Linked DNA regions of Homo sapiens. The protein of the gene in region 1 purifies or fractionates together with the protein of each later gene. This does not show direct contact. Each region holds a gene or a part of one and is shown on either strand. Other genes may lie near its edges. The genes, in order: PIN4, SYNRG and RACGAP1.

Region 1 (3,654 bases):
GACGCGTGACTATAAGTGATTCTATTTGAATGTGAAATGAGAAATCCTGCGAAACAGCTATCTTGACAAAATCATTTTCAAGGATAATAGTGTTTTTTTAAATCCATGGCTTTATGTAAACATAGGTCAAATTTGAATACTTCAGTAGGGTTGGGCGTTCTTAATATTCAACCTATGATACCTTTTCAAAGTGTGGAATTGTGGGGAGGCTTATACATTGGGTCTCTTTTAGTAAGAAATACTTCCTGGCCAGGCACGGTGTGCTGACACCTGTAATCCCAGCACTTTGGGAGCTGAGGTGGGCAGATCACTTTAGGCCAGGAATTTGAGACCAGCCTGGCCAACACAGTGAAACCCATCTCTACTAAAAATACAAAAAGTTAGCTGGGCGTGGTGGTGCGCACCTATAGTCCCAGCTACTTGGGAGGCTGAGGCAGGAGAATTGCTTGAACCCGTGGGTGGAGGTTGCAGTGAGCCAAGATCGGGCCACTGCACTCCAGCCTGGGCAACAGACGGAGACTCTGTCTCAAAAAAAAAGATAGAAATACTTTCTAGCAGGTTTTTTCTTATCCTCACTCTGATGAAATAATAGCTAGCCGTTGGTCAATGGTAGCTGCATTATCTCAATCTTCACAATCCTATGAGAACACATAGGTCCCGTTATCATTGCATCTTGATGTACAAATGGAGAAACACTTGGAGGTTTAAAAACATGCGTAAGTTCAGCCAGGCATGGTGGCTGACGCCTGTAATCCTAGCACTTTGGGAGGCCGAGGCGGGCAGATCACTTGAGGTCAGGGGTTCAAGACCGGCCTGGCCAACGTGGTGAAACACCATCTCTACTAAAAATACAAAAATTAGCTGGGCGTGGTAATGGGTGCCTGTAATCCCAGCTACTCGGGAGGCTAAGGCAAGAGAATTGCTTGAACCCGGGAGGCAGAGGTTGCAGTGAGCTGAGAGCACACCACTGCACTCCAGCCTGGGAGACAGAGTGAGACTCCGTCTCTAAATAAATAAATAAATAAAGCCTAAGTTCATACAGCAGAGTTGGGATTTGATTCTAGGACCACAGCTCTCAACCCGTATCGTGTTTCCTCCTCCTGTTAGCATGAAGGTATATGGTAAAAGATGGGAGCTTCCCGGCCGTGAGCGGCGGCTCACGCCTGTAATCCCAGCACTTTGGGAGGCCAAGGCGGGTGGATCACGAGGTCAGGAGTTCAAGACCAGCCTGGCCAACATGGAGAAACCCCATCTCTACTAAAAATACAAAAATTAGCCAGGTGTGATGGCACATAGCTGTAAACCCAGCTATTCAGGAGGCTGAGACAGGAGAATTGCTTGAACCCGGGAGGCAGAGGTTGCAGTGAGCCGAGATCACACCACTGCACTTCAGCCTAGGTGACAGAGCAAGACTCCTTCTCAAAAAAAAAAAAAAGGCGGAGCTTCCCACAGCCAGGTGCCTATTTTCCATCTAAATCAGGACTCTGAGACATTGTCTTAATATGGGGAATGGGATTGTGGTTGTTGTCCTGGGCAAACTTCCAGGATTTTTACTTGCTATGAACTAATGTGTTTTTTTTTTAACTGGTGGGGGTAATCCAAATGTAACCACTGTACTTTAAGGAGTCATTTGGGTCTCCAAGTATTACATGAATGTACTTTTTCCTTGCAGGTCAGACACATTCTATGTGAAAAACATGGCAAAATCATGGAAGCCATGGAAAAGTTAAAGTCTGGGATGAGATTCAATGAAGTGGCCGCACAGTATAGTGAAGATAAAGCCAGGCAAGGGGTATGTTGCTCTTATTATTTATAATTTTCTCTCAAGGTAAGAAAGCAAAGTAAAAATGACAAATAATAAAATAAGATAAAAATTCTCCATCCTCCACAGAAGAAACACAGAAGTAGGGATCATTCCTTTGTTCAACCATTGGTTGTAGCGATATTTTGGTTTAAAGATCTCAAAAGCAGAAATGTCCAACTTGTAAATAGTAGAATAAGGGTCATCTATGTCAAAACCTATGCATGACCAAACTTGCACGGCTAACTTCAAAGTCCAGCAGTGTTGAGAGTACTTATGTGTTCAGTCTAGTTAGACTTCTTCTACCTATTTGTCCTTATTGAGCCTATTCCTGTATTGCTCTTAGGAATATACCTCGTAACCTTAGCAAAATGTTGGGAAATTCTCTCAAGCTACAGTAGAACTGTTCCCTCTTCTGGGCCACTTGATATCACTTATCTTTTGGGTTTTTCAGGGTGACTTGGGTTGGATGACCAGAGGGTCCATGGTGGGACCATTTCAAGAAGCAGCATTTGCCTTGCCTGTAAGTGGGATGGATAAGCCTGTGTTTACAGACCCACCGGTTAAGACAAAATTTGGATATCATATTATTATGGTCGAAGGAAGAAAATAAAATCATATGAAAGACTGAATAAGTTTTATACATTTTGTTTCTTTAAAAGGTATTACATATTCTTTTGAGCTGGAGCTGCAAGGAAATACAAAAATTTTTAAAAAGAAAAGATATTGGATGCTCCTTGTATTCTGTGAAAGCTCTAAGTATGGGTTTGTAGGTGTAAGAGAGGGTGGGGCTAAGTGAATGTCAACTGTAGTAGGTATTCAGTCAGTCTTTCTCAAAGAGAAGTCAAGCAGACTCCCTTTAACCTGTATTCTCTTTCCTCCCAGAACTATATCTGACTCTCAGTCTGTCCCATAAATTAATTCAGAAACCATCTTCAGGGGAAGCAGATATCAACTCACACTATTCACACAACTGAAAATATTGGGCATCAAATAGATTAGTGTGTGAGAATCATAAAATAAGTTCCTAGACAACATTTGTTTTACATGTTAGTCAACTCTGATCTTCCAGGACAGGTGGTATTAGCTCCACTGTCTTAACATAGTACGTGGCACGTTATGCCTTTCAGTGTTAACTCCTTTCTTTTTAAATAAATGTTTATTGGAGGAAAAAAGCACTCAGTTGTTCCATGAGTTGTTTTGTACTAGACTAACCGAGTGCTGGTTAAAGGGAGGGATGTCAGCATAAAAATGTCATTCCCTCATCTTCAGTGTATGGGTTACATTAAGACTGTCCTTTCCAGGGCCAATGTTCTGTGCATCTAAATTTTTAAAATTTAAAATGCCATATTTATGACATATAAAAAAGTATAAAGATTACTAATATAAATACTATACTGCTTCAAAAATAAAACTTTGCCAACACAGCTATGTGATTCTTAACAGATTATTTTAACACACTGCCTTCTCTCCCTCAGCTGCATTTGATATTATACCCACTTATATAATGGGAACTTTACCTAGATACCTGACTTTCCCACTTGAGAAGAGTTTCTGAGCACCTCAGTAGGTTATGCCTCCATGAGATTTTCCCCACGGAGCAGATATGCCAGTGTATACAGAGAAGTTCAAATAGATATAAGATGAAACTATGGCTGGGCCCAGTGGTGTGCGCCTGTAGTCTTAGCTACTTGGGAGGCTGAGGCAGGAGGATCACTTGAGCCCAGGAGTTCTGGGCTGTAGTGTCCTATGCCAATCGGGTGTCAGCACTAAGTTCAGCATCAATACAGTGACCTCATCTGGGCACAGTGGCTCAGGCCTATCATCCCAGCATTTTAGGAGGCCAAGGTGGG
Region 2 (3,654 bases), on another chromosome or scaffold:
GGCAATCTCAGCTCACTGCAACCTCCGCCTCCTGGGTTCAAGCAATGCTCATGTCTCAGCCTACTGGATAGCTGGGATTACAGGCACATGCCACCACGCCTGGCTAATTTTTGTATTTTTAGTAAAGATGGGGTTTTGTCATGTTGACCAGGCTGGTCTTGAACTCCTGGCCTCAAGTGATCCGCCTGCCTTGGCCTCCCAAAGTGCTGGGATTACAGGCATGCACCACCTCATCTGGCCCCCTTTTGCTCCTTCGCGTGTTAATCCCATTTCCTTAAAAACCTTATAAATCACTAGGTATGTATTTTGTCTCTTAAATTTTTTCTCCCTAGGGTCTCTTCCCCTTTCTTTGTTGAAACTAACTCACTTAACAATCACCATTTTTGAAAGCAGTGATTTATTTTTTAATCTTCATTCTCACCGCTATTCTACAGCATTAGACACTGGTAACTACTTCCTTGTTGAAATGTGGTCCTTCTTCAGTTATAACTCTCAGTTATAAGCACTCCCTTGGTTTTCAATGACCATTTCCTACTCAGTTTTCACTGCAAGAATTCTCCAAGTTTGTCCTTAGTTGTTTTGTTACTGGATATATGCCCTTGGCTATTTCATCTACAACCAGAGCTTAATTTTTTTTTTTTTTTGAAACGGAGTTTCACTCTTGTTGCCCAGGCTGAAGTGCAATGGCGCGATCTTGGCTCACTGCAACCTCCGCCTCCTGGGTTCAAGTGATTCTCCTGCCTCACAGCCTCCTGAGTAGCTGGAATTGCAGGCATGCACCACCATGCCCAGCTAATTTTGTATTTTTAGTAGAGATGGGGTTTCTCCATGTTGGTCAGGCTGGTCTGGAACTCCCAACCTCAGGTGATCCACCTACCTTGGCCTCCCAAAGTGCTGGGATTACAGACGTGAGCCACTGCGCCTGGCCAGAGCTTAACTTTTTAACCTTTATTTATTTATTTATTTGAGACGGAATCTCACTCTGTCGCCCAGGCTTAACCTTTATTCAAAAGAGCCTAGGCCAAGTGCCGTAGCTCATGTCTGTAACCCCAGCACTTTGGGAGGCCAAGGCAGGCAGATCATGAGGCCAGGAGTTCAAGACCAGCCTGGCCATCATGGTGAAACCCTGTCTCTACTGAAAATACAATAATTAGCCAGGTTTGGTAGTGCTCGCCTGTAGTCCCAGCTACATAGGAGGCTGAGGCAGTAGAATCACTTGAGCCTGGCAGGCGGAGGTTGCAGTGAGCTGAGATCATGCCATCACACTCCAACCTGGACGACAAGAGCAAACTCCGTCTCAAAAAAATAAAATAAAAATAAAGTTGTCAGCTTAAAAAAAACCTTAGAAGAGAGCTTTCTTACGCTCTAAAATGAGGACTTATTGTTTAATGGGTACAGAGTTTCTGTTTGGGATGATGGAAAGGTTCTGGAAATGGATAGTGGTAATGGTTGACAATATTGTGAATGTCCTTAATTATGCCATGGAATTATACACTTAAAAATGGTTAAAAATGATAGAATTTTATGTTATGTATATGTTACCACAATAACAATAAAACCTCTGACAACTTCATATAATATTCAAAATAAAATGAAACATTTTAAAGGCCCTTGACCAGGTGCGGTGGCTCACACCTGTAATCCCAGCACTTTGGGAGGCCGAGGCGGGTGGATCACCTGAGGTCAGGAGTTTGAGACCAGCCTGGCCAACATGGTGAAACCCTGCCTCTACTAAAAATACAAAAAATTAGCCAGTCGTGGTGGCGGGTGCCTGTAATCCCAGCTACTCAGGAGGCTGAGGCAGGAGAATTGCTTGAACACAGGAGGTGGAGGCTGCAGTGAGCCAAGATCGCGCCATTGCACTCAAGCCTGGGCAACAAGAGCGAAACTCCATCTCACAAAAATAAATAAATAAATAAAAATAAAAATAAAGGCCCTGTACAATCTGCTTGCTTTTAAATCATATAGTTAACATTTAACCTACATTCATTTCTCCAAACATCCCTGCATCTCTGCCTCAGAGCTTTTGCTCAAAATATATAGTGTGCTTCTATTTTCCTTCAAGATTCAGCTCCAGAGCTACTTCCATAAAACTTCTCAAGATATAGCCCATTAAAATTCATCTTTTTCTTCTCATCTCTATTAATAATTTGGACCTCGCTTATAGCAGTTAGCACATTTACCCTGTGGTATAGTTATTTGCCTGCATATGTGTATTTTTGATTATAAGATTCCATCATTTCATGTAGTTGACACTCAATAGATGTTGACTGAATTGAATCTAAACTCTCTCATTTTATAGATGGGGAAACTGGAATCCAGAGAGGACACGAAGTGACAGAGCCAGGACTAATTTCAGGGTCTTCTGTCTTTTGTTTCAACAAGTTTCCGTCTGCAGTAGCATGCTGACATGCATCCTATGGATGCTCAGTGTACTGATGTTGGGCAATTCAGTATTGTGGTGCAGAACAAACACCAGGTCCCATCTACAAGTCTTTTATCCATATAAAAAAGTACACGTGTTATTTGAAATCTTTGTACATACGAAGATTATAATGTATTTTTATTCTGTTTTCAGCTTCATGTTTCCTGTTGCAGGTGGGATAAGACCCCCTCAAGGTATGTGAGAGCTTAAGTTTTGAACTTTTATTTTTCACTCTTGTGTTTCTGAATCTGGGAATTAAATAAGTAAATAGAAAATAAGTTCTGTTGCTGCTGAATAGAGTAAAATTTTCTGCACTCTTAAACCTGTATGTCCTATATGACAGCTACTCTTAAATTTTCTCAAAAATTATATAATTTTGGGAGTAATAAGGATCACTCCTCGTTTCTCCCAAACTTACATAGACATTATGTTCATAGATTGTTTAACCTCAGAGGTGAAAGACTTTTAGGACAAGAATGTTAAAGAACAGGTGATAAAAATGAAACGAGCTGTAATTCACTTAATGATGTCTTTCTCCTTCTATCTAGTCTTCTGCTAGATTGTTAGTGCCATGTCTGTCTAATGCTCATCTAGCATTATTTGTAGCACCCAGCATGTTGATTCAGCACAATAGGTTATCTGTAGATGTTTGTTGAATGAATAAACAAACATCTTTAGTTGTTTTACACTGCTATTTTTTATCTATATGATAGTATCTTATTATAATCATGTTTTATAAATATATAATTTTGAAATTAAAAGAGATCACATAGTCTGATTCAGCTTAAGTATTTAAGTCTCAGGATTTTGTTTGGTTTTTTATTTTTATTTTTGAGATGGAGTCTCTTGCTCTGTCGTCCAGGCTGGAGTATAAGTGGCACAGTCATAGCTTACTGTAGCCTCAGCCACCTAGGCTCAAGCATTCCTCCCACCTCAGCTTCCCAGGTAGCTGGGACCACAGGTGCATACCACCACGCCTGGCTAATTTTTAAATATTCTGTAGAGACAGGGTCTCCCTATGTTGCCCAGGCTGGTATCAAATTCCTCGGCTTAAGCGATTCTCCTGCCTTGGCCTCCCAAAGCACTGGGATTACAGGCATGAGCCACCACATCCGGCCAAGTCTCAGTTCTATTCCTAGAAATTTCTCTAAGTATACCTTTTCTCTCTTGGTCTCAGACTAGGACCCACCAATATCAATTCTAGCTTTATCTTCAAGGAAATAGTAGTG
Region 3 (3,654 bases), on another chromosome or scaffold:
TGCCCTGCCAACATCCAAGTTTTCTGCTCTTTGTAAACAAGTTCTTTCCACTATCACACACTGCTGCCTTCCAGTGGGATGACCTTAAACAAGTTACTTAAACTCTCTTTGCTTCTGTTTCCTCATCTTAAAATGAAGAAAACAAAACCTATTTTATGGGATTACTGTGAGAATTACATATGTAAATATGTCTAAAGGGCTTAGAAAATTTTTTGGCACATACTAAGTGCTCAATAAATGTTAGTTGATTATGGCTGGGCACAGTGGCTCACGCCTGTAATCCCAGCACTTAGGGAGACTGACGCAGGCAGATCACCTGAGGTCGGGAGTTCGAGACCAGCCTGACCAACATGGAGAAACCCCGTCTCTACTAACAATATAAAAATTAGCCGGGCGTGGTGGCGCATGCCTGTAATCCCAGCTACTTGGGAGGCTGAGGCAGGAGAATCGCTTGAACCCGGGAGGTGGAGGTTGCAGTGAGCCAACCTCTACCACGCCATTGCACTCCAGCCTGGGCAACAAGAGCGAAACTCTGTCTCAAAAAAAGACAAAAAAAGGCCAGGCCCAGTGGCTCACGCCTGTAATCCCAGCACTTTGGGAGGTCGAGGTGGGTGAATCACAAGGTCAGGAGTTCGAGACCAGCCTGGCCAACATGGTGAAACCCTGTCTCTACTAAAAATACGAAAAATTAGCTGGGCGTAGTGGTGGGCACCTGTAATCCCAGTTACTCGGGAGGCTGAGACAGGAGAATCGCTTGAACCTGGGAGGCAGAGGTTGCAGTGAGCTGAAATCACACCACTGCACTCCAGCCCAGGCGAGAGAGTGAGATTCGGTCTCAAAAAAAAAAAAAAAAAAAAGTTAGTTGATTATGATGATAATTTTCTAATTCATATCACTCTGTTCCTTCTGCCCTGTTTTATCCCAGGTTATTAAACCTGAATCCTGTGTTCCATGTGGAAAGCGGATAAAATTTGGCAAATTATCTCTGAAGTGTCGAGACTGTCGTGTGGTCTCTCATCCAGAATGTCGGGACCGCTGTCCCCTTCCCTGCATTCCTACCCTGATAGGAACACCTGTCAAGATTGGAGAGGTATGACTTATGCAAGCCGTCATTGTTTTATGGCCTCTTTATTCGCCTTTCAAAGGCTTAGTGTCAGTTTTTGTTCTAAAATTAATCATCTCAAATATATTTCTTTCCACAAATAATGACTAGAATTGTAAGATACTTACTTGTAGAAGAGTCCTGTTTGGGTTTGTCTGTCTAATACCTTTCTAAACCAAACTTCTTTCCCCGCCCCTTTTTCCTTCTTGCTCTTCCCTGCTTCTCCTTGCCTCTTCTTCCTTCCTTCCTCCCCTTCATCCCATTTTGGAAAATTTCAGACATATATAAAACTAGAGAAATTAGTATAACTAACCCCTGGTTCTTATCACTTAACTTCCATGATTACTAACTTGTGTCCATTTTTTTTTTTTTTTTTTTTTTTTTTTTTTTTTTTTTTTTAGCTCTATTGCCTAGGCTGGAGTGCACTGGCAGGATGTCAGCTCACTGCAACCTCCGCCCCCCTGGGCTCAAGCGATTTTCTTGCCTCAGCCTCCCAAGTACCTGGAATTACAGGCATGTACCACCACCATGCCCGGCTAATTTTTTTTGGTTGTATTTTTTAGTAGAGATGGGGTTTCATCATGTTGGCCAGGGTGGTCTCAAGCTCCTGACCTCAAGTGATCCGCCCACCTCAGCCTCTCAAAGTGCTGAGACTACAGGCGTGAGCCACCGCGCCTGGTCATGTCCATTCTTTTTTTAATGTCTCTCTTTTTTTTGAGACAGAGTTTCCCTGTTGTCCAGGCTGGATTGCAGTGTTGCAACTTTGGCTCACTGCAGCCTCTGTCTCCTGGGCTCAAGTGATTCTCATGCCTCAGCCTCCCAAGTTGCTGGGACTACAGCCATGTGCCACCATGCTCAACTAATTTTTTTGTATTTTTAGTAGAGACGGGGTTTTGCCATGTTGGCCAGGCTGGTCTTGAACTCCTGACCTCAAGTGATCCGCCTGCCTCGGCCTCCTAAAGTGTTGGGATTCTAGGTGTGAGCCATGGCACCCAGCCTTTATGTCTGTTCTTGATTTATCAATACTGTCGTTGCCTCCTCCTGACTCTGTCCAATGAATTACTTGGAAGCAAATCTCAGCTATCATATAATTTTATCTGTGATAAAATTATCTTTTATTCTTGCTCTTATGTTAGACATACTTCATAATAGGTTATCAAAATGAAGTTGCTTATTTCCAAATATTTAACCAGTTTAATCCAAACTGATTAAATCCATTAAGAAATTATTTATTGCTGAGTGTGGTAGCTCATGCCTGTAATCCCAGCACTTTGGGAGGCTGAGGCAGGAAAATCACTTGAGCCCAAGAGTTTGAGACCAGCCTGGACAACAAAGCAAGACTCCATCTCTACAAAGAATAAATAAATAAGTTAGCCAGGTTAGTGGTGTGCGCCTGTGTTTGTAGCTCCTCAGGAGGCTAGGTTGGACTATTGCTTGAGGTGGGGAGGTTGAAACTGCAGTGAGCTGTGATCACACCACTGCACTCCAGCCTGGGGAATAGAGCAAGACCCTATCTCAAAAAAAAAAAAAATTATTATGTAAGTAACATTAGCAAGAATCAAAATGACTATCTTCCTACCTACTCTTCAGCAAATCAAATATTATTTTCCCCTGATCTTACAAGTTCTTATCCATGCCTGTACATTTTGTTTTGTTTTGTTTTGTTTTGTTTTGTTTTTGAGAGGGAGTTTTGTTCTTGTTGCCCAGGCTGGAGTGCAATGGCGCAATCTCGACTCACCACAACCTCCACCTCCTGGGTTCAAGCGATTCTCCTGCCTCAGCCTCCCTCATAGCTGGGATTACAGGCATGCGCCACCATGCCTGGCTAATTTTGTATTTTTAGTAGAGACAGGGTTTCTCCATGTTAGTCAGGCAGGTCTCGAACTCCTGACCTCAGGTGATCCGCCCACCTCGGCCTCCTACAGTGCTGGGATTACAGGCGTGAGCTACCGCACCTGGCCGCCTGTACATTTTTTTTACACATGTTCTGTACTCTAATATAGAACCATGGAGTTCTCCCCTACAGGTAGGTTTGTGTCATAATCAACTGATAAGATATGTTAAATAATTTTTTTTACTGAGAATAATGAAAGTATACACAATTTTTTTCTCTTGTTCCAGCTTTCTTCTGTTAGAAAAAAAAATCTGTTTAGAGTAATAAATTATTTTATATTAAAGGCTATACCTGTAACCTCATTATTGCTTGTTTTCTGCTGTCCTTGAGTGGATGAGAAGGAGGTAATTATAGCTGGTGGTCTTATTCCTTGTTCACATAACAGTGTGGTGTATATATGAAAAAGAAAAAGTGTGGTATATATGATAATAAATCAGTCCTGGTGTGGAGGTAGGAAAAATAATTGAGAGTCTCTGTTTTAATATATGCTTTGGGAATAGGAATGTAAAAGTAGACATGATGTCCCAGTTTGAGAATAAGATTGGAGGTGGTTCTTCGCATGTGGTCTTCATCTGTTGGTCTACATGGCGTAAATAATAATTTAAAGCTCTTTTTTTTTTCCAGGGAATGCTGGCAGACTTTGTGTCCCAGACTTCTC

The links.
Region 2: the proteins of PIN4 (region 1) and SYNRG purify together in Homo sapiens (affinity purification with mass spectrometry; one large-scale study listed by BioGRID and IntAct). This does not show direct contact.
Region 3: the proteins of PIN4 (region 1) and RACGAP1 purify together in Homo sapiens (affinity purification with mass spectrometry; one large-scale study listed by BioGRID and IntAct). This does not show direct contact.

What each region holds. Positions count from the first base shown.
Region 1 is NC_000023.11:72,195,113-72,198,766, forward strand, and holds the end of PIN4 (peptidyl-prolyl cis-trans isomerase NIMA-interacting 4), read left to right. Parts: intron 1-1,672; coding exon 1,673-1,792; intron 1,793-2,255; coding exon 2,256-2,414; 3' UTR 2,415-3,228; downstream 3,229-3,654.
Region 2 is NC_000017.11:37,599,328-37,602,981, reverse strand, and holds part of SYNRG (synergin gamma), read left to right. Parts: intron 1-2,578; coding exon 2,579-2,619; intron 2,620-3,654. UniProt on the Homo sapiens protein: Plays a role in endocytosis and/or membrane trafficking at the trans-Golgi network (TGN). May act by linking the adapter protein complex AP-1 to other proteins. Component of clathrin-coated vesicles.
Region 3 is NC_000012.12:49,994,476-49,998,129, reverse strand, and holds part of RACGAP1 (rac GTPase-activating protein 1), read left to right. Parts: intron 1-925; coding exon 926-1,090; intron 1,091-3,620; coding exon 3,621-3,654.